5 linked regions of the Homo sapiens genome follow. The protein of the gene in region 1 interacts with the protein of each later gene in a biochemical or structural test. Each region holds a gene or a part of one and is shown in the gene's direction. Other genes may lie near its edges. The genes, in order: PEX14, AFTPH, ACACB, CAMTA1 and FSD1.

Region 1 (6,057 bases):
CCTGAGCTCCAGGTGACCACTCAGTGACAGCTTTGTCCCAGGGAAAGCCCCTGCGGGAGAGTCTTTGTGTTTTGTACTTGGAAGGGTTCCACAACTGAAGACGTGGGCAGAAGCAGGCCCTGCCCCCCGGCTTCTTGGTTGTCCCCCTGTTGTCCCTCTGTAGCGACAGCACATTGTCACCAATGCAGCCTCAGAGGTAGGGTGACCAACTTGTCCTGCTTTGCCTGGGACTGTCCTGGTTTTATTTATTTTTATTTTTATTTTTTTTTGAGATGGAGTCTCGCTCTGTTGCCCAGGCTGCAGTGCAGTGGCACGATCTCGGCTCACTGCAACCTCTGCCTCCCGGGTTCACGCCATTCTCCTGCCTCAGCCTCCCGAGTAGCTGGGATTACAGGCGCCCGCCACCACTCCCGGCTAATTTTTGTATTTTTAGTAGAGGTGGGATTTTGCTATGTTGGCCAGGCTGGTCTTGAATTCCCGACCTCAGGTCATCTGCCCATGGCCTCCCAAAGTGCTGGGATTACAGGTGTGAGCCACTGTGCCTGGACTGTTCTGGTTTTTTAAAACTGAAAGTCCAGTGTCCAGGAGCCACTCTGTCCTGGGAGCCGCAACTGTGGGCCATCCTCCTGGGCTGATGCCCTAGTGGGCCTTGCATGGGGTGTCCTTGTTTCCCTGCTGGGCTGGATTTGTTGGGAGCTGGGTGAGTGGGAGGGTGCAGGTGGGCTTTTCACTAGGGTCCAGGATGGGGTGCAGAGGGGTCTTGCGGCTCCAGCCAGAAGACCCCATTTTCCAAGCCACCCAACTTCCCGGTTTTCCCTGAGGAAAAGAACATGTCCTGGAAAGAGATGTGGCGCTGGCAGAGGCCAGAGCATTGTCATTAGGAGACAGCCTCCATTTTCCCTAACCGAGACCAGTGCCTTGGAGGCTGGGGATGGAGGCCAGGCCATCGGGTGACCGTGGGGGCCAAGAAAACTGCACATGGAATTTCTTGTTAGCGTTTAGGATGCTGGTGAATAAAGCAGGCCGTGGTGTGTGCCCCACTCAAGTGGGGTCTGTGGTGGGAGAGTTGTGTCTAAGGCCCCTGCTGGGGGACAGCCCTGCGGGCAGGGCTTTGTCCTCTTGGCTCAGGCAGAGATGGGCCTGCCTGTTGGAGAGCTCTGTCTCTGAGCCGTTGCCAAGTGGACCTGACCTCCCAGGTCCCTCCTGGAATTGGCTTTGGTTTGGGCTGGCTGCTGGCCCAGGAACGGAGTACGGAGCAGAAGGGAGAGCTGCCTCTTCTGCGTTGAAAGTGTTGAGCTCAGAAGTTTTCTAGCAAAGGGCATAACCACCGCCCTTTTGGTTCTGATGTGTCTGACCCCCTGCCAGTGGCCAGGGCTCCCTGCCTCCACCTTTTGCTCAGGCCATAGACAAATGAGGACTGTGGCTCAGGTGTCTGGAGTCCCCAGTCATAGCCCTTTTGGACTCCTCACCAACCTGTCTCTCTCCTGGCCACTGGGTTGGAGGCAGGGATGGTGCTGAGGATCAGAAGGAAGCAGGCTCCCGCATGGCAGGCAGGCCCCACTTGGCTTCCAGCAGCTGCCCAGGCAGATGGGCCTTGCCCAGGGTGGGGGCCCGGGGGGACCCTGGGCTGTCTGTGGGGGCACAGGACCCGCTTGGCATCTATCTCAGCTGTAGGATCTTTGCTCCTGAAAGGAGGGGTGGAAGGGCTCCATCCTGTCCCTTGCCCAGTGTCCCTGGGGGAGCAGCTCACCATCGCCGAGCCCTTGCGGGTCAGGGAAGGCGTGGCCCTTCGAAGGGGGGCGTCCTGAATGCCGCCACCAACCTCCTCCCCTTCTTCTCCCTCTAGGAGGCAGTTCCCTCCATCCCCATCAGCCCCGAAGATCCCCTCCTGGCAGATCCCAGTCAAGTCACCGTCACCCTCCAGCCCTGCGGCCGTGAACCACCACAGCAGCAGCGACATCTCACCTGTCAGCAACGAGTCCACGTCGTCCTCGCCTGGGAAGGAGGGCCACAGCCCCGAGGGCTCCACGGTCACCTACCACTTGCTGGGCCCCCAGGAGGAAGGCGAGGGGGTGGTGGACGTCAAGGGCCAGGTGCGGATGGAGGTGCAAGGCGAGGAGGAGAAGAGGGAGGACAAGGAGGACGAGGAGGATGAGGAGGATGATGATGTGAGCCATGTGGACGAGGAGGACTGCCTGGGGGTGCAGAGGGAGGACCGCCGGGGCGGGGATGGGCAGATCAACGAGCAGGTGGAGAAGCTGCGGCGGCCCGAGGGCGCCAGCAACGAGAGTGAGCGGGACTAGGGCTGCGCCTGCTGCCTCCAGCCCTGAGGATGGCATCTAGTGTGCCCGTGCGTGGCCATACCCTGCCTCCCTCTCTGGCCCTGGGAGGGCAGCTTGGAGCCCAGGTAGGGGGCAGAGCTGTCCTCAGCTGCACTGCGGCCTGGTGGCAGTGTGGGGAGTCACACTTCTGTCCACCTGGCCTCCTCTCGCCTGGCCGCCAGCCCCAGCCCCAGCCCCAGCCCCAGGCCCAGCTGCCTTTGGCTTTGATCTCAAGTCAGGCTGAAGGCAGCGAAGCCTCGGGGCCCAAGCCCCTCCCCAGCCCCCTCTCCCGGACAGACGCCTTGCCCAGGGTGTGTTTGCTGAGTGTCTTGACTACCGTGACACCACGCATGGCCAGAGCTAGCGTCCCTACTGCCTCCCGACTCCTCAGTGGAGGAGGAGCTGCGGTCCCTCTGGTGTCTGCCATCCCCCTCCCTCCCTGGGCCCGGCCCTGGACCCGTCAGGTGCCTGTCCCCAGCCCCAACCCCACTCATGCCCCGTCGTCCTCCCAGACAAATGAAACCACGCTGCGCTTCCGATGCCCCCGCTTGCCGTGTAATGGTTCAGCTAATCCCATGGCGAGATGGGGGCTCACTCCGGAGGAGGAGCCAGGCAGCAGGGCCTTCCTGACCAACAGCCAGCTCTGTCCTTCCCCCCAGGAAACACATGTTCATTTGTGTGATCATGTATAGACCTCAGAACGGAAGATAGGACTGTATATAATTGTAATAAATACCAGTTGCCACTATTTAATTTCTGCCTGTGGCTCCCTGTCTGCTCATGGCACCCTGGGCCCGGGGGTTCGTCTCAGCGCAGCCTCCAGCTGGTGAAGTGTGGGTGAGGGCCCATGGGCAGCTTCCGCCGCTGCTGAGCCAGAAGCAGAGGCCTTGTTCAGGTCCAGTGGCTGCCGGAGGGCGACACTTTGCTGACCGCAGGAGGATCAGGGACCTCGTGTGACTGTATATAGACCTCATGTGGAGTGAGGAGCTCTTCCTTAAATGGACGAATGCTTCCCGGGGAGGGGAGTGTGGCGTCCTCTCTGGCTCCCTGTCTCCCCTGGCTCTTTTCCTCCCAGTCTCCCTTTCCCCTTCACAGAGCATTTGGCTAAAACCAGAAGAGCAGAGCCATGGGCTCCTTGAGGGGCGCTCCTATTCCCTGCAGCCCCCAAGTGTCAGGACCAGGCTCGTGGGCCGCAGGCGCCGTGATGTCCATGTGCCTGTGTGGACACAAGGGCTTCGGAAATAGGAAGCCCTGGGCAGTCCCTGCGGGTGCGACCTCCATGTACCTGCTCCGCCCTGCCCCTCCCTCTGCTGGGGAGGGAGGAGGCCATGTGGTTGGGCTCAGAGACTTGGTGTTGGGGCTGTTTTGTCTCAGATGTTTCGCTTTTGGCCCCTGCAGCAAACCCTTCTTAATGCTGGGAACACAGGTCCTGCTAAAGTGACGGGTTTCCAGGCCCGGGCCGCCCCCGCTCACTCAAGAGTCCCTGGGACCCGGCTGCCTCCACCTGCTGGAGGGACCCCTGGAGCAGGTCCACCCCCACCCACTGGAGGGTCCCTGGGAGCAGGTCTGCCCCTACCCACTGGAGGGTCCCCAGTACTGGGCTGCACCCACCCACTGGAGGGTCACCGGGAGCAGGCTGAACCCACCTGCTGGAGGGTCCAGCCCCAATCTGGTTTCTGGCCTGCGGGTTGTGTCTTTCATGCTTGTCACCTGGAAGGACACTCCTGCATTTCCTGTTTCCAGCTACGTGTTCCCCAGGGACGAGCGGAGCCCAGTTCAGTGTCACACTATGGCTTGTTCTCCTTTTTCCCTGGCCTCCTTGCTGTCCCTGAAGAAGCAGGTGTCTCAATTCCCAGGGGCTGCCACCCTCACCTGGACGAGGGGGTCCTGCCTACCAGGACCCCAGGAGTCCCAGTGTCTGGGAGCTGCGGTGGGCAGACAGGTGGGCCAGGCCTCGGCCTGGCTCTGGGGACAGTGACTGCCTGTGTCCCACCCTCAGACCTGCTGGGTCACAGGCCTGCATCTGGACGGATCGGTTCCTGAGGAGTCCCCGCCCCCTGTCATTTGCTGCCTGGTGGCCATTGTCTGTAACTTCTCAGAGGTCCCTCCTCCAGTGGGACTAGAAAGGGAGACCAGAGGGCAGATACCCTGGGAAGGAAGGGAAGCCAGGGCTGTGGGGTTGGTGCTGTGGAAGTGAAGTGCCAGCTTCCCGGCTCCATTTCTCCCTGGAGAGCTGGGGCCACCAAGAAAGGGATTCCCTGGGGCTTCACTATCCCTGGGGTGGGGGCAATGGAGACCTCACAGGGCAAGCACTCTCCATCCTGGGGGTCAGTGGGCTGGCACATCCCTGAGGCTCAAGCGTGGAGGAGAAACGGACAGAAACCTGGGCCCGGAGGCCTTTTGCCCCTGTGGGTCCTGAGCACCGAATTCGGCTTTTGAGGACAGAGTCTGGCGTGATTTCAGGGAGAGAAAAACCCCTCCCCAAAACGGCAGGAGTGCTGCCTAATAAAGCCAGCTGCTGGACCAGGGAAAACAGCCCTTTGAAAAAAAAAAGCCTTTCATTAGAAAAATAATGCATTTCATCCAAATAAGGTAAAAATATTCGGAATGGGGCAGAAGTAAGCAGCAGGCAGCGCCTGTCAGGCCCTTTCTGGAAGGGAGAAGATTATTAAACTCAATTACAATGTATTTTTATAAAGTGTCTTTTAGGAAAGAACTAGCCCCATGCTTGGAGGCCGGGGGACAGCTGCCCTGACCTCACCCCGGACCAGCTCCCTCGGTCCCCGGGGTCTGTCCCGGCTCCTCCGGTAACTCGCTGGTTCTGCCTTGGGCAGGGGCATCTACTTTGGGAAGGACAGGGGACCTCCCTTGGTGTTTGCGACTCGCAGGACAGGCCAGGAGGCGGGGGAGTTGCCTTCGGGGGATGGTAGGGTCTCCGCCCGCCTGGGGCTGCCAAGTCCTTCAAAAGCCAAGGCTCCCAGAGCCAGTCCCATCCCAGGACCCTGGCTGGGACAGGGAGCGCCTGGGTCAGGGGAAGGGGCTGCTGAGTTTGTACCCACAGGTGGGATGTGTAGCAAAGCCAATCCACATAGAAGGGGACAGAGATGCGAGAACCTGCCACCTGCCCATCGGCTCCCTGTGTGCCCACAGAGTCTCTTTCCCTCTTTCTTTGTTTTTAATAAACGCATCTGAGCAAGCTGTGTTCATCTTTCGGGGCCCTCACACCCAGGTACAGGTGGAAGAGTTTTCTAGAAGGTTTCGCTTCTGCCCTCCTGGCGGCCCAGCCAGGAGCATGGAGGCGCTGGGTCTCCGGCCTTGCCCCAGACCCCTCCCTCTCCAGGTGACCACCCTGTCCCTGCCCCAGACCCCAGGAGGGAAGGGGAGGGCAAGCAGGGGCCATTCTTCAATGGCCAGACATCTCTGTCCCCAGGAGTTGACTTAATTTGTCTTTTGTTTAAACTGGTTTCTGCCAAGGCACCAAAAGAAGAGGTCAGAGCCTCCAGACAGGGCAGGCACGGAGGCGCCAGTGAGACCTGCATGCAGGTGGGAGCTCCAGCCTCAGGTGAGGTGCGCTCCTGAGGTGTAGCACCCAGGTAGACCTGGAGGGCCTGGCCGCTCTTCCTCCTCCTGCTCCTTTGCTGTGTACAGGGGCTTCCCACCTAGGGACTGGCCACCGCCTGGCCAGGGGGAGCCACGCCCGAGCTGGCACATGCTGACATGCATGTGCGTGCACATG
Region 2 (6,402 bases), on another chromosome or scaffold:
GCCCAGTAAATGGCACCTAGCAGATATTCATTAGCTCTAGTTGTTCCTCCGTGGATTAAATTAGATATATCAGTTGATCTTCAAAGTACACATATATTTTTAAATCTTCAAAAACCTCTGGAAAAAAATCCACTACAATTCACATAATATGTAGGGCATTTAAGTTTTAATGTTTGCTGATCTTTTGACCTAGAGACTGTTAAAAAATAATCCCGTATCACAACAAGGATAATATGTCCTTAATAGCCTTGATACATCTTGCCGAATCCAGTTTTCGTTATGAAAATTGTATAGTGTGGGTGAATCATATCATAAAACATCATTTTACATTTTCATTTGTTCTGCTTACATTTAGTGAAAAACTAGTTCAGAAATGTAGTGACATTTGAGTACCAAATAATGTTTTATTTTGTGTGAAATCTAAAGTGCTTTCCTCAGCAGGCAAAGTCTTTGAATAGCTTCTCATTAAGGGATTGCCCCTTCTCTCCCAACCCTTCCCCCAAATCTCATAAAAGGAGGCCGCTAAGTATTTAGATATTTTTTAATCATCATAAATTATTTAAATAAAATGTTTATATTCTAATTTAATGTTACCTACACTTTGTAGATTAAAAAATAAAGGTTTTTCCCTCTATTCTTAGCACTTTCAATTCCTTTTTAAGTAGAATAGTGAACCTTTCTAGCCGGAACTTTATAAGTATTTTTAGTTTTTACACTATTTTGAAAATCTGGCATTGTATGGATTTTACATATCTCATTTTGCTAATCATTTTCTCAGTTTGTGCATATATCAGATATAGTCACAAGTTCTTTTGCAGCTTTATATGATAATTGCTAACACATGAGCAGTATATATGTTGCTCATATATATTGCTTCCTATGAGCAAGATAGTTTTCTAAATGCTTTATATACAGTGTACTAACTCAATCCACACAACAACCTGTAAGGCAGTAAGTAGTAGTATCCCTCATTTTTCAGAGAGGAAACTGAGGCACACAGATACTAAGTAACTTGCCTTAGGTCAAACAGCTGTTAAGTGACAGATCCGTTTGCTAGACCATTTATATAGTCTCATGCAAAACTATACTATGTATTGTCTGTGATTTGTGCAATATGTAGCAAAAGTATAACAACATGCATGGGAATGATAAACACCAAGTCAGACTAAAAGTGACCTTTGGAGAACTTGAGAGGGATGAAGGATCTAGGAGGGGCCCATGGGTTTACAAACATATCTTTATATCCTTAAAAAAAATCCGAAGTTGACTTGTTAAGAGATTAAGATTTAACACACCTGGGTGATGGTTACTGGCTCATTCATTATGGCTTTTTTCTCCCTAAGGTTTGCATGAAGTTCTTCACAATGAAATTAAAAGTTTAAAGGCCGGGCATGGTGGCTCACACCTGTAATCCCAGCACTTTGGGAGACCGGGGTGGGCAGATCACCTGAGGTCGGGAGTTCAAAACCAGCCTGACCAACATGGAGAAACCCCGTCTCTACTGAAAATACAAAATTAGCCGGGTGTGGTGGCACATGCCTATAATCCCAGCTATTCGGGAGACTGAGGCAGGGGAATCGCTTGAACCCGGGAGGCGGAGGTTGCAGTGAGCTGAGATCATGCCAGTGCACTCCAGCCTGGGCAACAAGAGCAAAACATCATCTCAAAAAAAAAAAAAGAAATTAAAAGTTTAGGTATTTAACTTTAAAACATATATAAAGTATCACTCTTCTTTCAGCATTGTATATTTAAAAAAAGGACAGGAAAGGAGTTAGTATTATTTTGTGTTGACTTTCTTTTAAAATACAAGGAGCTTCTAAGTTAAAAAAATGTTTTTAATTAAGAATTGTTTGCCTCTCCAGATTCCTCTGCATTAACTTCCCTTGCCTGGACTCTTCCCTATTGCTGGCAACCATTTAACAGCCCTTTGTCACACTCCTAGTGTCTATTTCTGGCCTTTCCCTTCTAGGGTAGGGGCTCATAGGTCTGTGGATTAGACCTATTCCCAAGAAAAGGGAAAAGGTCAGAACTAAGTGGGGAGGAAGAAAGGAGGTGGGGAATCACTGCTTATTGATTTGGGATAATTGAGAAGAAGAGGGAAATAATGATTTAAGACTCCATCCTATGGTTGTCAGTCACTGTCACCCTTGTTCCAAATAGCTAACTTGAAGATAAACCTTGCAAAGATAGATTGCTAATTAATTAAAGGTTAATTTACTAGCACTGTATTTGTGAATAATTCCCATCGGAAAATTACACAGTAAATGAGAATTAATTTACTGTAGGTTCTATTTATGTAAATATTTACAGTATACCATAAACCATTTCAATTAAATATCTACTGACACCATGCATGTTATCTTCTTCCTTTCATTCATAAAACAAGTATCTATTGAGCACCTGCTATTTGTCCGGCCCTGTTCTAGGTGCTGGGGATACTGAAATGAGCAAACAAGAAAAAAAATCTGCCCTCCTACAGCTTCAGTTTCTTTATGTATATATGTATGTACTCACACATTTGTGTACATATTTGGGACAAATAAGCAAATAGCAATAAAATAAGCAATAGCAATAATGGCAGATGATGTTAAGTATCATCAGAAAAATGGAATCAGTTTTGGGGGATAGGGAGTGGTGAATTTTTTGCTTTGAGCCAGTAGTAAGGGAGGTTGGTGGGGCTTGCTGTTTTATATAGAGTGGAGTCAGAGAAGGCTTAAACCTGAAGAAGGGGAAGCAAATAAGAAGAGTGGTAGAGACAGAAGTATGCCTGGAATAGTCAAGAAATTGTGGCAGAGAAGTCTGGGGTGGATAGAATAGGGTGAACAAGTAGAAGAGTAGTACAAATTGTGATCAGAGTTAGAGGGTGAGAGGGGCAGTGTTTTAGGGTCCTTACAGAAATTCTAATGACTTAGGCTTTTTACTGTGGGAGATGGTAAGTCATTGCAGGATTTTTGAGTAAAGGTGTAAGATAATTTATGTTGTAAAAGGATCTGTCTAGCTGTTATATAGAAAATAGACTATAGGAGTGGAATGTAAGAATAGAAGCAGAGTCAGGAGAGAATTGTGCTGGTAGAGTTAAGAAGAGATGGTAGTGGCATGAACCAAGATGGTAGCAGTAGAGATGAGAAGTGGTAGGACAGTTTCTTGAATTGGAATCTGCAATAATTCCCTCATTTTTAAACTCAGAAAGCTTACAGAGGCACTCCCTTCTGAAAATTCAAGGCCCTTGCAACCTATGTTTCCAGCTTACTGCCTGTACCCTTCATATATCCTGTGTTCTAACCATATTTTATTATGTGTCTTACTGTTCCTTGATAGGGGCCCCATGCTTTATCTTTAATGACTACCATTTCCTCTGTCAATTAAATCCTTCCTATTTCAAATTTTCTCCTTTTTGAAGTTTTTTTTTTTTCACCATTCCTTCTCTTCCCAATCAAGTGTGATCTTTTTCTTAGAATCTTGGTAGCCACATTTTACTTCAGTGATGTTTATATTCTATCTTGCATTATTTTTGCTGTTCTCTTGTATTATTCTCCTTAATTAGCTGTAAGTTTCTTTAAGGTTGTGACTCCTTTTACTCAGTTCTACCACAGTTTTGTATGTAATAGATGCTCAGTAAATAGTGGGTGTATACATATTTAAATTTTTTAAAATAGTCTTATTGCAGAGGCATACAGGAGCATCATAGAAAATAGACAAGCAAAAAAAAACAAATCACTTTTTTTTTTTTTTGAGACAGAGTCTCACTGTGTCACCCAGGCTGGAGTACAGTGGAGTGATCATGGCTCACTGCAGCACAGACCTCCTGGGCTCAGGCAGTCTTCCTGCCTCAGCCTCCTAAATAGCTGGGACCACGGGCGCACACCACCATGCCTGGCTAATTGTTTTTATTAGTAGTAGAGACAGGGCCTTGTTATGTTGCCCAGGCTGGAAAAATTACTTTAAAAAAATCCCTCAGCCAGGCGCAGTGGCTCACGCATGTAATCCCAGCACCTTGGGAGGCCAAGGCGGGCATATCACTTGAGGTTTGGAGTTGGAGACCAGCCTGGCCAACATGGTGAAACCCCGTCTCTTCTAAAAATATAGAAAAATTAGCCAGGCATGGTGGCGGCCGCCTGTAATCCTGGCTACTGAGGAGACTGAGACAGGAGAATCACTTGAACCTGAGAGGTGGAGGTTGCAGTGAGCCAAGATCATGCCATTGCACCCCAGCCTGGACAACAGAGTGAGGCTCCGTCTCAACAACAACAAAAAAAAGCAAATCCCTCACTGTTACAGTTTATATAATAATGCATATTTTCCTACACATTTTAATATATATGTGTACTTTTTACCAAAATGAAGACTTGTTGTAGTGTTTTGTAGTTTTTTTTGTTTTAAGTCAGTTTAGTCATCTAAACTAATATTCAAGGCCATATTCAGATTCTTCCCCAGTTCACCCAAAAATGTCCCCTGGCAACTGATTTACCCAAATCATTATCTACATCATATTATGTTTTTCCAGTTATTAAAATTATGAAAAAATAATGTGCTTATTATAGAAAATTTGGGAAAATGTGGAAAAAAAGTAGAAAGAAAATGGGTGTGCCCATGATGGCAGGAACCCTTCTGTTTTAATGCCTGGCACAAAGTAACACTCAATAAATACATGTTAAGAGGGATAATAGAAGAAAAATATCACTGGTCATCATACTACAAAAAGAAAACTGTTAATATTTTGGTTTTCTTCCTGTTTTATTTTTACTGTGGATATGTGAGCATGTCATACATATACATATGAATCATATTGCGTTGATCTTTCTTTTACTTATTAAATTGTGAGCATTTCTCCATGTTACTAAATTTTCCTTAAAACATGCTTTTTGGCTGGGTGTGGTGGCTCACACCTGTAATCCCAGCACTTTGGGAGGCCGAGGCGGGAGTATCACTTGAGGTCAGGAGTTTGAGACCAGCCTGGCCAACATGGTAAAACCCCGTCTCTACTAAAAATACAAAAATTAGCCAGGCGTGGTGTCAGGCACTTGTAATCCCAGCTACTCGGGAGGCTGAGGCAAGAGAATTGCTTGAACCCGGGAGGTGGAGATTGCAGTGAGCCTAGATCACACCACTGCACTCCAGTCTGGGTGACAGAGTGAGACTTCATCTCAAAAAAAAAAAAAAAAAAAACACCACAAAATGAAAAAAACCATGCTTTTTAATGACTGTGTAGAATGCCATTTTCAAGTTATCTCTGCTATTTCCCACTAATGTGGGTTTTCCAGATTTTACCATCATAGAAGAGCATCTTGGTGAAAAAGTTTGTACATAATTCTTTGACCTTATTGTTGATTATTTTCATAGGATCAAATCTTAGAAGTAGAGTTATTAAGTCAGAGGGAAAGCCTGTTACTTTCTAAGAGGTTATAATAAAATCACTCCTACCAGCAGTGGTTGGGTCCCCATCTCCCTTATTTCCTCAGATGATCAGTAATATGCAGTTTTTAAATTACTGGAATTTTTATTTTGAATTTAGGCTTTTCAGCAGTGTGGAATGTTTGCATAATTTAAAATTTTTGAATGATTTAAACCTGAGATATGCCTTTATTTGATATAAGATTAATCTTGCTTAATGCCATGCTCTTTTTAAGTTAACCTATTCTGTTAGCAAGCTATTTAAGTATAAAAAAATACAGTACTATCTTCTAGAACTATCTTGTCTAATACAGTAGCCACTAGCCAAATGTGTCACTTGAAATGAAACTAGCCCAAATTAAGATGTGATTTCAGTGTAAAATACACAGCAGATTTTAAAAACTAATGTGAAATATATCAGTAATATTTTACATTGGTCACATGTTAAAATAATATTGTGGATACTTTGGGTTAGATAAAATTTCATCTGTTTCTTTTTAAATGTGGCTACTAGAAGATTTTTAATTGCATATATGGCTTAATTGTTGTCAGTTGGACAGCCCAGCTCTAGAAATGACACTTTTTATTTAGAGAAAAAATATAAGATTAACTTAACTCTTATAGAAAGGAATACATAGATTTTTTAAAATTACATATTACATTTAAACCTCTCAATATATTTTTCGTAGTATACATGGGTTGCACGGTAATTTTTCAAGTTACAAGTGTTTGATCACAAACTATAACTTACTATGGTTCTTATGCTCTGAAAGAAATATGTGTAGGAGGACTTGAGGGAGGGTGTTAGGAAACTTACCTGAGGAATTGATCTTTCACCTAAAAATTGAAGGATGTGTGGGAATGTCTTAGGCACTGGGACTGTAAGTGCAAAGACCCTGTGGCACAAGGGAATGTTAATTATCTACCTTTCAGAAACTGGAAGAAGGCCTAGCCTAGAGCATTGAAAACAATAAGGGAAAGGAGGAGTAAGGCTGGAGAGAGAGGAATGGT
Region 3 (6,402 bases), on another chromosome or scaffold:
TTATCCCAGTAGAAACTTTGACCTTGTTCTTTTTTTTTTTTTTTTTTTGAGACAGAGTCTCGTCCTGTCACCCAGGCTGGAGTGCGATGGCACAATCTCAGCTCACTGCAACCCCTGCCTCCCAGGTTCAAGCAATTCCTCAGTCTCAGTCTCCCGAGTAGCTGGGATTGCAGGCAAGCACTACCACGCCCAGCTAATTTTTGTATTTTTAGTAGAGATGGGGTTTTGCCATGTTGGCCAGGCTGGTCTCGAACTCCTGACCTCAAGTGATCTGCTCACCTTGGCCTCCCAAAGTGCTGGGATTACGGGCATGAGCCACTGCACCCGGCCTGGAATACCTTGTTCTCATGCTTCCTCTGAATTTGTGATTCAGTGACTTGTTACTTCAAAGTAGAGTTCACCTGTACCCAGGGAAACCAGGAAACAGAGTTAGAAATATTGCATTTGATCGGAAAAATGTATGCACATTTCACATCCTATCCTAATAGATCTCTCTGTTTGCAGTGATAATAGTAAATTTATGACCGTAGAGTAAGGTGATTTTCTAGGAAGATAGACCGTGTTCATTTATTCCAGGAATCCAGGGATCCTTGTATCAGAGAATCCAGGCTGGGCACAGCAGAGAAACCAAGGTATTGATTATTGGGTAGTTGGCATACCCCAGGTATGCCATAATAATTATGGGATCTCACATAATTTTGAGGACAATCCTAGGAAGGAGATTTTATTTATTCCATTCCACAGGCCAGGAAACCAAGGTTCAGAGAATTTCCATGATGGGCTCAGGCCAATCAGATAACAAATGGCAAAGCCTCCACCCAAGTCTGCTGTACTCCAGAAGTCCTGCTCTCTGGGCTCATACCTTAGCCACTCTGACCCTTGCTGGGGCCCCAGAAAACAACTACACATAGAAAAGGTCTCTTCAGGCCAGACACAGTGGCTCACGCCTGTAATCCCAGCACTTTGGGAGGCTGAGGAGCTAGATCACTTGAGGTCAGGAGTTTGAGACCAACCTGGCCAACATGGTGAAACCCTTTCTCTACTAAAAATACAAAAATTAGCTGGGTGTGGTGGCTAGTGCCTGTAAACCCAGCGACTTGGGAGGCTGAGGTAGGAGAATCACTTGAACACAGGAGGTGGAGCTTGCCGTGAACCGAGATGGTGCCACCGCACTCCAGCCTGGGCAACAGAGCAAGACTCTGTCTCAAAAAAAAAAAAAAAATGATTTTGAGACAGGGCTGGGTGGCTCACGCCTATAATCCCAGCACTTTGGGAGGCTGAGGCAGGCAGATCACTTGAGGTCAGGAGTTCAAGGCCAGCCTGACCAACATGGCAAAACCCTGTCTCTACTAAAAATACAAAAATTAGCCAGTTATGGTGGTGCGCCTGTAATCCCAGCTACCTGGGAGGCTGAGGCAGGAGAATCGCTTGAAACTGGGAACCAGACGTTGCAGCAAGCTGAGATCGCGCCACTGCACTCTAGCCTGGGCGACAGAGCGAGACTCCATCTCAGAAGAAAAAAAAAAAGGATTAAAGGATTTTCCACCACTCCTGTTGAACTAATTAAGCTCCATATTTTTAAATTAAATAATGAGTGAAGGTGATATCAGAGGACAACTTGAACACACTCTCCTTTCTATTTAGAAGCAAATCAGCTGCAGACTTCAATACTAGCTATTATAGAATAATCAGTTGTTGGACATGCCCCTCCCAACTGACCTAGAAGGCTTTCTCTGCTGTGTTATAAGGAAGGCTTCGGTCTTTTATTTCCATACTCCCCACAAAGTGAGGCTTTTGGAGCTCTTCTGATATGGAGAGCTGCCCATGCAAGGTGGAAACAGGCCTCCAGGGCCAATCAGTTTGGGAAACACCAGGCTGCCTGTGGTTTACAGCAGGACTTCTCAGAGCCTTTACTATGCTAAATGCAGTGGGACTCTCCAAGATGTGACATTGGGATTTGGCCCTAGAAATGTTATTTTTTGGCAAGGGTGGGGACCATCTTTCAGGATTGGTATTCATAGCCACCTCTTGCAAAACATGGAACCGTTTCATTCCATGCCTTCCTCATCTCCTTGCAGGATCCTGGGAGGCAGGACCATGGAGTGGATGAGGTTCACAGGCTCGAGCTCTTGAGCAGGGGGCAAGGGGTGTGTGTGTGCATGTGTGTATGCATGCATGTGTGTGTGTATGTGTGTGTGTGTAAATAGAGCACTGTCTCCCAGGGTTCTGGATGAATTTGAACAGGGAGAAAGTAGAATTGATTCAGTGAGATCTGCTAACAGGCTGTTGCACTAGCTCAGCCTTGGAGTGAGGCAATGGTGGGCGTAGGGGAAGGGATGAAGAAAACACACCCACACACGTGTGCCACACACGTGCACACCTGGAGCTGGAGGGCCCAGCCCGGGGCCCAGCTCTGCCACTCACTGATGTGACTCTGAACAACAGACTTTCTCTCTGTGCCTCATCTTATCATTTTTGTGAACATTTAAAGAGATAACACACACAAAGTGCACAGCATAAGACTCAGTGTGTAGGAGGTGCTCAACAAACATCAGCTTTCTTTTTTATTTTTTTGAGACATAGTCTTGCTCTGTTGCCCAGGCTGGGGTGCAGTGGCGTGATCTCAGCTAACTGCAACCTCCACCTCCCAGGTTCAAGCGATTCTCCTGCCTCAGCCTCCCAAGTAGCTGGGACCACAGGTGCATATCACCACACTCGGCTAATTTTTGTATTTTTAGTAGAAACAGGGTTTCACCATGTTGGCCAGGCTGGTCTCGAACTCCTGACCTCAAGTGATCTGCCCGCCTAGGCCTCCCAAAGTGCTGGGATTACAGGCATGAGAGACCACACCTGCCAGCTTTCATTCTTATTCAACATGCTTTTATGGGTTCCTTGAGGGACTACTATATGCCTCCTAGTGTATACTGGAGTTACAAAAGAACCCTATTTTCAGAGTTGCAAATAGACTGGGGAAGGGGTCGGGGGAGATGAAGTCAGAAATTGATGATAAATCTGTGCCCCTCTGGGTTTTAAGCCTTGCCTGCTCTCACAGATCTTACCTTCTAGTGGGGGACACTGGTAGATGTGTAATAATGACCCACATAACTACAACCTATGATGAGTGCCAGGAGGAAGAGATCAGGGAACTGTGGGGCATAGAGCAAGAGCATGGTGTTCCATGGCATCTCTCTGGTGGCCCCTGATACAGCAGTATGAGGGAGCAGCCAGCAGGGGTTCAACAGCCGTGCAGATGCCTGTGCCCAGGGCCTCACCTGGACACTCCCAGCCCCAAGGACTCAGTGGAGCAGGAGGATTCCCCAGGTAGGCAGCAGGGGTGGGGGTGGCACAGACACACCTGAGCTGGGTGCAGGCCTCCAGCAAGTGTTCACTGACCCTGACGCTTCTGTGTGCTAGGCACTGTGCTGGAGAGCCCAGAGCAAGACAGAGCCACTCCTTGCCCTTAGGAAGCTTCTATTCCAGTGGAGAAGAGGCATAAACTCATTGGTGAATGCAGAGAGTCAGGTCAGCACGTGATGAATGGCACGTGTCCTACAGAATAAGACCACTGAGTATCAGGGTGGGTTTGAGGTGGGGACACTGAAGCCAACCATCAGAAAAAGAGCAAGAGATAACCATGCAAAGGACAGAAGTGGGGGCAGGGAAGGGAAGAACATTCCAGAACATTCCAGGCAGCATGTGCAGAGGAACGTAGAGGGGTCAGTGTGGCAGAGGCCGGTTTGCCAGGGCCATGTAGACCATGGAAAGGGGTGCAGTGAGCAATCATTGAAAAGGTGAAATTCAGTTTATCTGCTTACTACCCGGGTGAGTGACTTTGCGTCACTTCAACTTCTCGAACCCAGAACTTCCTCATCAATAAAACGAGGCTTCCCCTGCTACTGGTCTCACAAGGTGGAATGAGACAATGATTATAAAATGCTTCATATAGGCCAGGTATGGTGGTTCATGCCTGTAATCCCAGTGCTTTGGGAGGCCAAGGCGGGAGGATTGCTTGAGTCCCTGTCTGTATAAAATATAAAAAGTTTCGCTGGGCGTGGTGGCACATGCCTGTAATCCCAGTGCTTTGGGAGGCCGAGGAGGGGGATTGCTTGAGCCCAGGAATTCAAGGCTGCAATGAGCTATGATTGTGCCACTGCACTCCAGCCTAGGCGCCAGAGTCAGACATTGTCTCAAAAAAAAAAAAAAAAAAAAAAAAAGATGCTGAATACAGAGCCTAGCACAAATTAGTACTCATAAGTATTAGCTATTAATATTCAGGTTTCAGTCAGCTGGTGGGTACTTGCATTGTATTTTATGAACTTTTTAACTTTTTGGTATAGGAAAAAAAGTTGACCTGTTTTTTTTTAACACCTTCAGAAGCAGAGTAAATAGCACAGTGGTCCCCCAATGCATTCATCAGCCAGCTTCAATAACCATTGCCTTTCTGCCCTTCTAGTTTCATCTTCCTATACCCATTTTCCCTATATTATTCCCCCAACATTTTATTATAAAAAAATTTAAGCTGGGTGCAGTGGCTCATGCCTGTAATCCCAGCACTTTGGGGGCCAAAGTGGGCGGATCACGAGGTCAGGAGATCGAGACCATCCTGGCTAACATGGTGAAACCCCGTCTCTACTAAAAATACAAAAAATTAGCCGGGCGTGGTGGCAGGTGCCTGTAGTCCCAGCTACTCAGGAGGTTGAGGCAGGAGAATGGCATGAACCCAGGAGGCGGAGCTTGCAGTGAGCCGAGATCGCACCACTGCACTCCAGCCTGGGCGACAGAGCGAGACTCCATCTCAAAAAAAAAAAAAAAATTTTTAAACATACAAGTTGAAAGAATTTTACAGTGGGTGCCCATATACCCCTGATTAGATTCTGCCATTACCATTTTTCTGTATTTGTCACCTGTAAATTGCAGATATCAGTGTCTTTATCCTTGAATACTTCAACATGCATGTCATTAATTAGAGCTCCAGAGTTTTTTTTGTTTGTTTGTTTATTTGTTTGTTTTAAGAGACAGGGTCTTAGGCCGAGCGTGGTGGCTCACATCTGTAATTCCAGCACTTTGGGAGGCCGAGGCGGGCAGATCACTTGAGGCCAGGAGTTTAAGACCAGCCTGGCCAACATGGAAAAACGCCCATCTCTACAAAAAATACAAAAATTAGCCAGGCCTGGTGGCATGCACCTGTAATCCCAACTACTCAGGAGGCTGAGGCAGGAGAATCTTTTGAACCTGGGAGGCAGAGGTTGCATTGAGCCAAGATTGTGCCACTACACTCCAGCCTGGGTGACAGAGTGAGACCCTGTCTCAAAAAAAAGAAAAGAGACAGGGTCTCACTCTGTCGCCCAGGCTGGAGTGCAGTGGCACAATCTCGGCTCACTTGCAGCCTCTACTACCCTGGGCTCCCATCTCAGCCTCCAGAGTAGCTGGGACTACAGGGACACACCACCACGCCTGGCTAATTTTTTTTTTTTAATTTTTATTTTTTAGGTAACAGAGTTTGCCATGTTGCTCGGGCTGGTCTTGAACTCCTGGGCTCAAGCGATCCTCCTGCCTTGGCCTCCCAAAGTGCTGGGATTATAGATGTGAGCCACTGCATCTGGCCCCCAGACTATTTTCAAGCAATTCTCACAGCTAGATGTCACACTGTTTTGCCCGTAATACTTTAGCACACATTTCTAAAAGACACAAGTTTTTTTTTTAAACCATTGCCATAATTATATCTATCTAACAGAATGAATGATAATTCCTTAATCTAGTACCTAGTTCATGCTGACTGTCCTCCAGGTGGCTCAAAGATGTCTTTGAATGGTTTTATTCAAATCAGGACCCACAGGGTTTCTCTTAAGTCTCCTCATCTGTAATAATCAGCAACTCCCTTTATTAAATGCCAGTTACTTATTGAAACTGGGTCATTTGTCCCGTAGAATTTTCCATATTCTGGATTTGGCTGATTGCATCTTCCAAGTGTCATCTAACATGTTCTTCTATACCTATAAATAAGTACTAGGTCAAGAGGCTTGAATCAATTCAGGTGCAGATCCTTAGCAGGAATACTTTGAAGGTGTTTTTCTGTTTTCTCTTGCATCACGTCAAGAACATAAAGTTCAGTTACCCCACTTTTAGTGATTTTTGTTCATTAGTGAGTTTAGGGTATCAGTCTGACCTCCGTCGTAAAGTTCCCTATCACCCTCTTGCCGAATGACTTTACTGCCTGCTGATGAGCAAAGCCCAGATTATTGTTTCGTTACTATAGTGATTTTCTACTTCCGTCAATCTTTCTGTGCTTATTAGCTCTTGTTGTTTTTTGTTGTTGTTGTTGTTGTTTCTGGTTTTGTTTGTTTGTTTTGAGACAGGGTCTCTCTCTGTCATCCAGGCTAGAGTGCAGTGGCACAATCTTGG
Region 4 (5,053 bases), 2.9 Mb from region 1:
AGAAAAAAAAAATTTTTTTTAATTAGCCAGGCGTGGTGGGACATCCCTGTGGTCCCAGCTACTCAGGAGGCTGAAGTGGGAGGATCACTTGAGCCCGGGAGGTTGAGGCTGCAGTGAGCCATGATCACTCCACTGCACTCTGACCTGGTCAACAGAATAAGACCCTGTCTCAAAAAGAAGAAGAAGAAAAAAAAAGGCCAGATGGTGACTTAGACCTGCTAGGGTTCAGAATTAATTTAGAATCTTCCTACTTTCTATTCTGTATTTTATCCCTATCTTAAGTGTAGGTATAAAACATAATTGAATTCAGTAATTCATAAGCCTTTTATAAACTCAAGGTCAGTATGAAAAGAGCCCAGAGAAAGTGTTTATGTAATGATTCAGTGTAGAATGACATTATACATTACAGCCTCTTTCACAAACTTTCTGTAAGTTCCATAAAGAATGTATGATATTGCCAAGTACGAGTAAATTACCAAACATTGTTTCAGAGTCCCATTGGTCTTGAAGGCTTTATATACATTTCATTTAGGAAGTTCATTTTTGGGAAGTCTCCCAGGGAGAAATTATTTCTCAGGGGACCCTAGAGATAAATTTAAAGGAACTGATGGTATTTCTTATCTCCACTACTCAGTCGTTGCAAAAAAAACCTCAAATAATGCCCCCTCTTTCTCTTCAAGACAAATGATGATTTCCTTTACACAGTTAAGTTTTTAGGTGAATATTTTTGGTTTTATGAACCTCATAAATATCAAGTTTAGTTATATTTTAAATAATAGGTTAAAAGAACATCATATGCCACACCCAAAAGGCTAGCCTCCTTCCTCCCCGTGTTTTCATATTGCTCCCCTGTCTTCAGAAATCAGCAGGAAAGAAACAACTTGGCACGCAGTAGAATATTATTAAGGCTAAGATAGGCTTCTTTTTTTTCTTTTTGACACGAAGTCTTGCTCTGTCGCCCAGGTGCAGTGCAGTGACACAATCTTGGCTCACTGCAGCCTCCGCCTCCGAGGTTCAAGCGATTCTCCAGCCTCAGCCTCCCAAGTAGCTGGGATTACAGGCATGGGCCACCACGCCTGGCTAATTTTGTATTTTTAGTAGAGACGGGGTTTCCCCACCTTGGTCAGACTGGTCTCGAACTCCCAACCTCAGGTGATCCGCCTGCCTCGGCCTCCCAAAGTGCTGGGATTACAGACATAAGCCACCGTGCCCGGCCGATAGTACTAAGTTTTATAAAAGAAGTAATCATTGTTTAATTTACCTCATGGCTCACATAAGAGATCTCCTTAAAATACTTTTCCTTTCACCAACAAAAGTGGCATAAAAGGAATGGTATGTAATGTCATTTTAAAGCTCAGCCACTACGCAGCTGGCTCAAACGCTATGCAACTGGCCTAGAATCTCATCCCATGTTAACCACTACTGAATATCCTTTCATCAGTTTAAGTTGCCTTCAGTAAATGTCCGTGTTTGCCATGCGGGATAGAGACATGACTGTTTTTGTTTAATACAAAAAAAAAAAAATTCCCTTTTCGTTCACTCTGGCCATTTCCATGTGCTCATGAATGTGTCTTGTGTGTGTAGAATGGCTGTGCCTTGGCCTTTTGAGTCAAGGTCAGTTTGCGGCATGTTGGGATCACCTAACTCTGCTCCTGTAGGTGTTTTTACAGCTTTGATGAGGCTGAGATAACAATCCCATCATCTGCCTTTTTTATTTTGGGAGGCATTTTTTCCACATTTAAAAATAAAAATCAGCGAGGAGCCATAGTATTTCTGTAGTAAGTAAAGTTTATGGAGTTTATTGCCAGAAAAAAAAAGTACTTTTTAAGTAACACCAGAGATACAAATTAGCCTAGAGGTGCCATTTATTTGGGGGAGTGTTAAACATAAAACTGCTATCACAGAGACTCACATAAGCTGTTGAAGTTACTAACTTTCATTTTATTTTTCTTCCATTACAACTGGTTCATAGGAAGTAACCCATGTGGTTAAAATTAGTAAACTTCTCTTTCCTATAGCCCTTATTGTTATTAATAACACTTAAATTTCAGGATCTCTAAATGCTTTTCTCAGTATTCTTTTTACTTTACATAAAGGACTGGATTATTGGATACTTCTAGTCATTTCTTTAAGGAAAAAACAGTCCGCATCTAAGTGATCTAATTCTCCTTCAGAAGAAGCAAGAGGCTGGGCGCGGTGGCTCATGCCAGGAACCTAGCACTTGGGAGGCTGAGGCAGGCAGATCACTTGAGATCGGGTGTTCGAGACCAGCCTGGCCAACATGGTGAAACCCTATCTCCGCTAAAAATACAAAAATTAGCTAGAAATTGCTTGAACCTAGGAAGCAGAGGTTGGAATGAGCCAAGATCGTGCCACTGCACTCCAGCCTGGGTGACAGAGCGAGACTCTGTCTCAAAAAAAAAAAAAAAGAAAAAAGAAGAAGAAGAAAGAGAGTGAAAGAGCCGCTATACCCGCCAGTGGAAACATTAGGAAAGCTACTCTGCTCCACTGTCTCACAACAGTTTACTGCCTACAGGAAGGCTAGAACCACTTTTTTTTGTTTAAGGCTGTGTACACTTTCCCCAAGACGAATCGGCATGAAGTTCCTAATCAGAGTGTCAGCCCTAATAGATAGACTCGTGTCTGTAGAGCTGTGGACTTCAGAGAAGTGCTACTGAGCTGAAGCTAAGCACATTCTAGTCTCAATTTCATGGATGGTTCTTGGGGGTTTGGGTTTTTTGTTGTTGTTGTTGTTTTTTGAGACAAGGTCTTGCTCTGTCACCCAGGCTGGAATGCAGTGGCGCGATCACAGCTCACTGTAGCCTCAACCTCTCCAGGCTCAGGTGATCTTCCCACCTCAGCCTCCCGAGTAGCTGGGATTACAGGCACCCACCACCACGCCTGGCTAATTTTTGTATTTTTAGTAGAGATGGGGTTAGGGTTAGGGTTGGCCAGGCTGGTCTCGAACTCCTGACCACAAGAGATCTGCCCGCCTCAGCCTCCCAAAGTGCTGGGATTTCAGGCATGAGCCACTGTGCGCAGCCTAAATTTTGTACTTTTTGTAGAGACAGGGTCTCACCATGTTGCCCAGGCTGGTCTCAAACTCCCGAGCAATCCTCCCACCTCGGCCTCCCAAAGTGCTAGGATTTCAGGCATGATCCAGCATGCCCAGCCAATGTTTCTTTATTTTCAGTGTTTTATGTTTTCCGTTGTGAGTTTCTAATCGTAAAGCATTTGTTTCCCCTACATCGAAGCGCTGATGGGGTCGAGGGCCTTTAGTCCTGAGGTCGTAACGTGCGCTTTTTTGTGACAGTGTGCTTCTGGGACTGGGGCCTTGGGGAGCTGCTTTGAGAGCCGTGTGGTCGTGGTATGCGAGAAGATGATGAGCCGAGCCTGCTGGGCGAAGTCCAAGCACTTGATCCACTCAAAGACTTTCCGCGGAATGACCCTACTCCACCTGGCCGCTGCCCAGGGCTATGCCACCCTAATCCAGACCCTCATCAAATGGCGGTAAGGCTGTGGTGCAGCTGGCTGGGGGTCAGCCTCGCACATCCTCGCTCACATTCTTCCTGAGCACTGCCACCCGTGGAAGAAATCTACCCATTCAGTCCACTTTATAGCCGGCGAGCAAAGGGCTTTGTCCTTGGACAGTTTCCAAGGGAGTTTTATAAACTTCTTCCCAAGAAATACCCAGAGAGATAAGAATTAAATGTTGGACTTGTCATTTTCTTTGGACCCCTAGCCAAATGGAGCGTCCACACTGCCCTGGGACTCTGTTTCTTCACCATGGGGATGTTATATACCCAGTTGGGTTTCATCTTGGTGGGGTTTTATAATATTCTGGTGTTTCCTTTTAACGGTGGTGAATAGTGTGGTAATTTCTGGTGCTCTCCCTTATAGTACAAAGCACGCGGATAGCATTGACCTGGAACTGGAAGTTGACCCCTTGAATGTGGACCACTTCTCCTGTACTCCTCTGGTAAGGAATGGATTCCTGTAGCCCCCCCTTGCTGTTCTTCCAGTCTGGCATAGGATTTGCCTGGTTCCCACCGTTGTCTCTTGCTGACACATGGCATGTTTCGGAGATACTTTGGGATGGGAATCTTCAATGGCCCCACCGAGATTGCCAGCAAGGACCAGTTTGTCAGTTGGCAGCAATGGCAAAAGTCAGGTCTGGTCTTGACCTCTGATTGAGAACGCTTGCTGTGTCTCCCTGTCTTCTAGATGTGGGCGTGTGCCCTAGGGCACTTGGAAGCTGCCGTCGTGCTGTACAAGTGGGACCGTCGGGCCATCTCGATTCCCGACTCTCTAGGAAGGCTGCCTTTGGGAATTGCCAGGTCACGGGGTCATGTGAAATTAGCAGAGTGTCTGGAGCACCTGCAGAGAGATGAGCAGGCTCAGCTGGGACAGAACCCCAGAATCCACTGTCCTGCAAGCGAAGAGCCCAGCACAGAGAGCTGGATGGCCCAGTGGCACAGCGAAGCCATCAGCTCTCCAGAAATACCCAAGGGAGTCACTGTTATTGCAAGCACCAACCCAGGTAAGAATTCAGAATCATGACATCTCAGAGCTTGACAGAGATCCCGTTTGCTTTCATGCAGCTGCCCTCAGCAGAGTCCATAGGATAGTCACATACATTTCAGTTTTTTTGTTAATGTTTCTGATTTTTCTTTAAGAATGCCTAGTGCTGCCCCCTCCCCCAGTACAGAAGAAAGTAGCAAAAATTCTATGTTCATGCAAGAAATACATAATTTTGGAGGAGGAAGATCTGAATCTGGTGTATGCTACTGGGGATATTTAAATGTTAGGGACGTGTCTTGAGTTCCGGCTTTGCACTTTGTGTCTCTCAGGCATAGAGAAAGTGTTGATTCTTGAGGATTCCTAGTTGTATCTCCTGTCCTGACTATCCTTTCTACTGTACTTTTCAGAGCTGAGAAGACCTCGTTCTGAACCCTCTAATTACTACAGCAGTGAGAGCCACAAAGATTATCCGGCTCCCAAAAAGCATAAATTGAACCCTGAGTACTTCCAGACAAGGCAGGAGAAGCTGCTT
Region 5 (6,402 bases), on another chromosome or scaffold:
CCTGTCTTGGCCATCCTCTGTCTTCAGGGCACAGTCCAGAAGTGCAGGGACACTTTGGCAAATACCTTCCTCGAGAGGCCTCAGTCTTCATGTCTGTAGAGTGGCTTTATGATTTGGTAGAAACAAATCTTTGGGCCGGGCGCAGTGGCTCACGCCTGTAATCCCAGCACTTTGGGAGGCTGAGGCGGGCCGATCATGAGGTCAGGAGATCAAGACAAGCCTGGCTAATACAGTGAAACCCTATCTCTGCTAAAAATACAAAAAATTAGCTGGGTGTGGTGGCGGGCGCCTGTAGTCCCAGCTACTCGGGAGGCTGAGGCAGGAGAATGGCGTGAACCCGGGAGGCGGAGCTTGCAGTGAGCCGAGATCGTGCCACTGCACTCCAGCCTGAACGACAGAGCAAGACTCCATCTCAAAAAAAAAAAAACACAAAAAATGAAACAAATCTTTGGGCCAGGCACGGTGGCTCATGCCTGTAATCCCAGCACTCTGGGAGGCTGAGGCAGGCGGATCACCTGAGGTCAGGAGTTTGAGACCAGTGTGGCCAACATGGCAAAACCCCATCTCTCTAAAAATACAAAAAATTGGCCGGGTGTGGTGGTGGGTGCTTGTAATCCCAGCTACTCAGGAGGCTGAGGCAGAATTGCTTGAACCCAGGAGGTGGAGGTTGCAGTGAGCCGAGATCTCTCCACTGCAATCCAGCCTGGGCAACAGAGCAAGACTCCGTCTCAAAAACAAAAAAAGAAATCTTTGAATGTTGTTCTGTTCCTCTCTCTAGGCTGCCAAGCAAATCAAAGATGGGTAAGACACTGGGGTCTGGCCCCCACCCCACTACCCTGCCCCTGGTGTGAAGACAGGGGCCACCTGGTGAGGGTGTCTCATCTCAGAGCCCTGGACGGGAGCCCTGGGGAGGGGCCCCCTCGCGCCACGGATGACCAGGCCTGGTCCCCCACGCAACGCCTGCCACCTCCTTCCTGCAGAGTGACCATGGCCCCTGCCTTCCGGCTATCATTGAAAGCGAAGGTCAGTGACAACATGAGTCACCTCATGGTGGACTTCGCGCAAGAGCGGCAGATGCTACAGGCACTCAAGTTCCTGCCTGGTGAGAGGGGCACGCACTAGAGGGCCAGGACTTCCGGGGAATGACCTGGGAGGCTAGGAGGCCCTGAAACAGGACCTGGAGTATGGTGGACGACCCGGTGTCTGAATTCCGCCTGGGGGAGGTGGAGCTCTGAGAATTCCACGCCCTGTGGGGGGTGGAGTTCTCATGGAGCCCCGCCCCTGGGTGGAGCCATGGGAAGACCCCACCCACTGTGTAGTGACATCCTGGGAAAACTCTGTACCCAGGGGTGGAACTGTGAGAATACCATGTCCTGTGGGGTTGGTTGAGTCCTCATGAGGCCCCGCCCTGGGGTGGAGCCATGAGAAGGTCAAACTCACCAGGTGGGAAAATCCTGTCCCCAGGGGTGGAGCCCTGAGAATAGCACGTCCTGTGGGGGTGGGGTATTCATCAAGTCCCGCCCATGGGTGGAGCCATCAGAAAGCCCCACCCACCAGGGGGTGAGGTCCTGGGAAAACTCTGTCCACAGGGGTGGAGCCCTGAGAATACCATGTCGTTGGGGGAGTGGAGTCCTCCCGAGACCTCCTCCCTGGATAGAGCCACGAGAAGGGCCTGCCCACCACATGGTAGCTCCTGGGAAAACCCTGTTTCCAGGGGTGGAGCCCTGAGAAGGCCACGTCCCCGAGGAGAAATGGACTGAGAACCCAGCCTGTCTATGATGCAGCCCCAAAGAAAGCCGCATCCCTCATTGGCAGAGATTTTGGAATAATTCTGCCTGTAAATGATGGAATCCCAAGAAAGCTCAGCCCTCCCCCAACCCACTGATGGAACCTTAGCGTCTCCATGGCCGGGCGCGGTGACTCACGCCTGGAATCCCAGCACTTTGGGAGGCCGAGGCGGGTGGATCACTTGAGGTCAGGAGTTCAAGACCAGCCTGGCCAACATGGAGAAACCCTGTCTCTACTAAAAATATAAAAAATTAGCCGGGCCATGGTGGCTCACGACTGTAATCCCAGCTACTCAGGAGGCTGAGGCAGGAGAATCGCTTGAACCAGGGAGTCGGAGGTTGCAGTGAGCCAAGATCGTGCCACTGCACTCCAGCCTGGGTGACAAGAGCAAGACTCTGTCTCTAAAAAAAAAAAAGTCTCCACCCTGCCAAACATGGAACCCCTTTGTGGCCATGCCCCCAAAATTGTCCAACATGTGGTTGGGCAGCCCTGCAGCAAGCCCCCTGCCCCCTGAACCAGGCACAGAATCCCGACCCCCTCTCCTTTCCGTCTTGGTCAGTGCCCAGCGCACCCGTGATCGACCTGGCTGAGTCCCTGGTGGCAGATAACTGTGTGACCCTGGTGTGGCGCATGCCGGATGAGGACAGCAAGATTGACCACTACGTGCTGGAGTACCGGCGGACCAACTTCGAGGGCCCGCCCCGCCTCAAGGAGGACCAGCCCTGGATGGTCATCGAGGGCATCCGGCAGACAGAGTACACCCTGACAGGTAAGGGCAGTGTGTGCCAGCTCCGCCCAGCTGTGAACAGCCACCTCTTCCAGCCTCCCGTCTCGCCATCAGTCACTGGGGGCCTTGGGGACGATCCCCAAAGCTCATGGGGTCTGGAAGCAGCCTGGGGAGGTGGATCAGAAATATGAGACAGTGGCCAGGCGCGGTGGCTCATGCCTGTAATCCCAGCACTTTGGGAGGCTGAAGCGGGTGGATCGCCTGAGGTCAGGAGTTCAAGACCAGCGTGGCCAACATGGTGAAACCCTATCTCTACTAAAAATACAAAAAAATTAGCCGGGCATGGTATCGGGCACCTGTAATCCCAGCTACTCAGGAGGCTAAGGCGGGAGAATTGCTTGAACCCGGAAGGTGGAGATGGCACTGAGCCGAGATCGCGCTATTGCACTCCAGCCTGGGCAACAAAAGCGAAACTCATCTCAAAAAAACAAAAAATAATAATAATGAATATAGGCCGGGCGCGGTAGCTCACGCCTGTAATCCCAGCACTTTGGGAGGCCGAGGCGGGCCGATCACAAGGTCAGGAGATCGAGACCATCCTGGCTAACACGGTGAAATACTGTATCTACTAAAAAAATACAAAAAATTAGCCGGGCGTGGCGGTGTGCACCTGTAGTCCCAGCTGCTCAGGAGGCTGAGGCAGGAGAATGGCGTGAACTCGGGAGGCGGAGCTTGCAGTGAGCCTAGATTGCGCCACTGCACTCCAGCCTGGGCGACAGAGCAAGACTCCGTCTCAAAAAATAAATAAATAAATAAATAAATAAATAAATAATAATAATGAATATATTTTTCCAGACATGGGATCCTGCCATTTCCCTAGGCTGGTCTCCAACCCCTGGCCTCAAGCAGTCCTGCCTCAGCCTCCCAAATAGCTGTGTACTGTCCTCGGAGCAGGGAACAAAGCAGACAATAATCTTTTCCCTCCTAGAGCTGGCGTTCTGGATTCACCCTCCAAGTATTTGGGGTCCTCCTTGGCAGTTACAAGAAATTGAAAGCTGGCCAGGCATGGTGGCTCAAGCCTGTGATACAGCACTTTGGGAGGCTGAGGCAAGAGGATTGCTTGAGGCCAGGAGCTGGAGACCAGCTTGGGTAACAAAGCAAGAGCCCATCTATAAAAAAAAAAAAAATTTAAAGTTACCTGAGCATGGTGGTCCCCGCTACCAAGGGAGGCTAAGGTGGGAGGATTGTTTGAGCCCAAGAATTGGAGGCTGCAGTGAGCCATGACTGCACCACCGCACTCCAGCCTGAGCAACAGAGCGAGACCCTGTCTCTACTAAACAAAGAGAGAAAAATAAAGAAAAAAAAAAACAAAACCCAAGGAATCCACCCAGCTGGTGGAGGTAGGGTCTGAAGGGGGAAAGCCTCCTGGGCCGGGCGTGGTGGCTCACACCTGTACTCCCAGCACTTTGGGAGGCTTAGGCGGGCGGATCTTGAAGTCACGAGATTGAGACCAGCCTGACCAACATGGTGAAACCCTGTCTCTACTAAAAATACAAAAATTAGCTGGGTGTGGTGGCGGGCGCCTGTAATCCCAGCTACTCGGGAGGCTGAGGCAGGAGAATTGCTTGAACCCAGGAAGCAGAAGTTGCAGTGAGCTGAGATTGCGCCACTGAGCTCCAGCCTGGTTACAGAGCGAGACTCCGTCTCAAAAAAAAAAAAAACAAAAAGCCATCCTGGCCAGGCGTGGTGGCTCACGCTGTAATCCCAGCACTTTGGGAGGCTGAGGTGGGTGGATCACTTGAGGTCAGGAGTTCAAGACCAGCCTGGCCAGCATGGTAAAACCCTGTCTCTACTAAAAATGCAAAAAAATTAGTGGGGCATGGTGGCGGATGCCTGTAGTCCCAGCTACTTGGGAGGCTGAGGAGTGAGAATCACTTCAGCCTGGGAGGCGGAGGCTGCAGTGAGCAGAGATCGCGCCACTGCACTCCAGCTTGGGCAACAGAGGGAGACTCCGTCTCAAAAAAAAAAAAGAAAAAAAAAGCCATCCTGATCCAGGGGAATCCCGGAGGGGCGGGGAGAGGCTGGCTGACGGGTTTAACTATCACCATTCACTAGCTGCTTTTGGGCTGTAATCAGCCAGCTAGTTATCTGTAATTAGCATACATGGTTAATCATGAGCACGCTAACTGCAGGGGGAAAAGTCATCAGCCTCAGGAGCTGCAAACAGCCATTGGCTTATCCTTTGCTTGAGAATCAAAATAAACACACCCCTTTTATTTGTTGTAAATAGGATTCCTCAAATCCCTCCTCCAAGTGCCCCCGCCTTTTGGTTTTGTTTTCTTGTAACTTTGTATTTTGAAATAATTATAGATCCACAGGAAGTTGCCAAAACAACTAAAACAAAAAGTACAGTGAGGACCCATGTAGTCAGCATAAAACCCGGGAAATGGACACGGGTGCAGTGGACTCACATTCTACCTTTTTTTTTTTTTTTTGAGATGGAGTCTCGCTTTGTCGCCCAGGCTGGAGTGCAGTGGCCTGATCTCGGCTCACCGCAACCTCCGCCTCCTGGGTTCAAGCAATTCTCCTGTCTCAGCCTCCCTAGTAACTGGGATTACAGGCGCCCACCACCATGCCTGGCTAATTTTTGTATTTTTAGTAGAGATGGGGTTTCTCCATGTTGACCAGGCTGGTCTCTAACTCCTGACCTCAGGTGATCCGCCTGCCTCGGCCTCCCAGTGCTGGGATGACAGGCGTGAGCCACCACGCCCCGCCACATTTTACCAGTTTTACACGCGCTCATTCGGGTGTTCCACACAGTTTTCTCCCATGTGTAAATTCATGTCACCACCAACACCACGGTCAAAGTATAGATCTCTTCTGTCACTACGAGGCTTCCAGGTGCTACGCTTTATAACCATGGCTTCCTGCCTTTGACAGACTTCCTAGTGAGTGAATTCCTCAGGGCAGAAAGTTGGATTCATGGAAAGCTGTGCAGGAGTAAGGATACCGATGAAAGCAGCTGCCTATGTGGTCGTTTGCAATCCACCTACTGTTTTGTTGATTGCTTGGAAAGATGGGAGGGTTTGGGTTATTTTCTTCTTTCTTTCCCTTTTTTCTTTTTTCTTTTTTTTGAGACAGAATCTCGCTCTGTCGCCCAAGCTGGAGTACAGTGGCTTGATCTCGGCTCTCTGCAACCTCTGCCTCCCAGGTTCAAGCGATTCTCCTGCCTCAACCTCCCAAGTAGCTTGGACTACAGGCACTATAGGCATGCGCCCCAACGCCTGGTTAATTTTTTTTTTTTTTTTTTTTTTTTTGAGACAGAGTCTCACTCTGTTGCCCAGGCTGGAGTGCAGTGGTGCTATCTCGGCTCACTGCAAGCTCCGCCTCCCGGGTTCACGCCATTCTCCTGCCTCAGCCTCCCAAGTAGCTGGGACTACAGGCGCCTGCCACCACGCCTGGCTAATTTTTTGTATTTTTAGTAGAGACGGGTTTTCACCGTGTTAGCCAGGATGGTCTTGATCTCCTGACCTTGTGATCCGCCTCCGTCGGCCTCCCAAAGTGCTGGGATTACAGGCGTGAGCCACCGTGCCTGGCCTTTTTTTTTTTTTTTTTTTTTGAGTTGCAGTCTCGCTCTGTCACCCAGGCTGGAGTGCAATGATGCGATCTTTGGCTCACTGCAACTTCTGCCTCCTGGGTTCAAGCAATTCTCCTGCCCCAGCCTCCCCAGTAGCTGGGATTACAGGCCCCCGCCACCACACCTGGCTAATTTTTGTGTTTTTAGTAGAGACGGGGTTTCACCTTATTGGCGAGGCTGGTCTCTTGGCCAGGCTGGTCTCGAACTCCTGACCTCAGGTGATCTGCCTGCCTCAGCCTCCCAAAGTGCT

What was found.
Region 2: the proteins of PEX14 (region 1) and AFTPH interact in a test that uses a peptide from one of them, tested with the Homo sapiens proteins (one large-scale study listed by BioGRID and IntAct).
Region 3: the proteins of PEX14 (region 1) and ACACB interact in a test that uses a peptide from one of them, tested with the Homo sapiens proteins (one large-scale study listed by BioGRID and IntAct).
Region 4: the proteins of PEX14 (region 1) and CAMTA1 interact in a test that uses a peptide from one of them, tested with the Homo sapiens proteins (one large-scale study listed by BioGRID and IntAct).
Region 5: the proteins of PEX14 (region 1) and FSD1 interact in a test that uses a peptide from one of them, tested with the Homo sapiens proteins (one large-scale study listed by BioGRID and IntAct).

What each region holds. Positions count from the first base shown.
Region 1 is NC_000001.11:10,627,685-10,633,741, forward strand, and holds the end of PEX14 (peroxisomal membrane protein PEX14), read left to right. Parts: intron 1-1,846; coding exon 1,847-2,303; 3' UTR 2,304-3,074; downstream 3,075-6,057. UniProt on the Homo sapiens protein: Component of the PEX13-PEX14 docking complex, a translocon channel that specifically mediates the import of peroxisomal cargo proteins bound to PEX5 receptor.
Region 2 is NC_000002.12:64,525,916-64,532,317, forward strand, and holds part of AFTPH (aftiphilin), read left to right. Parts: intron 1-6,402. UniProt on the Homo sapiens protein: Component of clathrin-coated vesicles.
Region 3 is NC_000012.12:109,118,384-109,124,785, forward strand, and holds part of ACACB (acetyl-CoA carboxylase 2), read left to right. Parts: intron 1-270; exon of another isoform or gene 271-401; intron 402-5,762; exon of another isoform or gene 5,763-6,402. UniProt on the Homo sapiens protein: Mitochondrial enzyme that catalyzes the carboxylation of acetyl-CoA to malonyl-CoA and plays a central role in fatty acid metabolism.
Region 4 is NC_000001.11:7,733,031-7,738,083, forward strand, and holds part of CAMTA1 (calmodulin-binding transcription activator 1), read left to right. Parts: intron 1-3,313; coding exon 3,314-3,510; intron 3,511-3,900; coding exon 3,901-3,979; intron 3,980-4,224; coding exon 4,225-4,540; intron 4,541-4,928; coding exon 4,929-5,053. UniProt on the Homo sapiens protein: Transcriptional activator.
Region 5 is NC_000019.10:4,309,495-4,315,896, forward strand, and holds part of FSD1 (fibronectin type III and SPRY domain-containing protein 1), read left to right. Parts: intron 1-778; coding exon 779-801; intron 802-980; coding exon 981-1,102; intron 1,103-2,347; coding exon 2,348-2,557; intron 2,558-6,402. UniProt on the Homo sapiens protein: May be involved in microtubule organization and stabilization.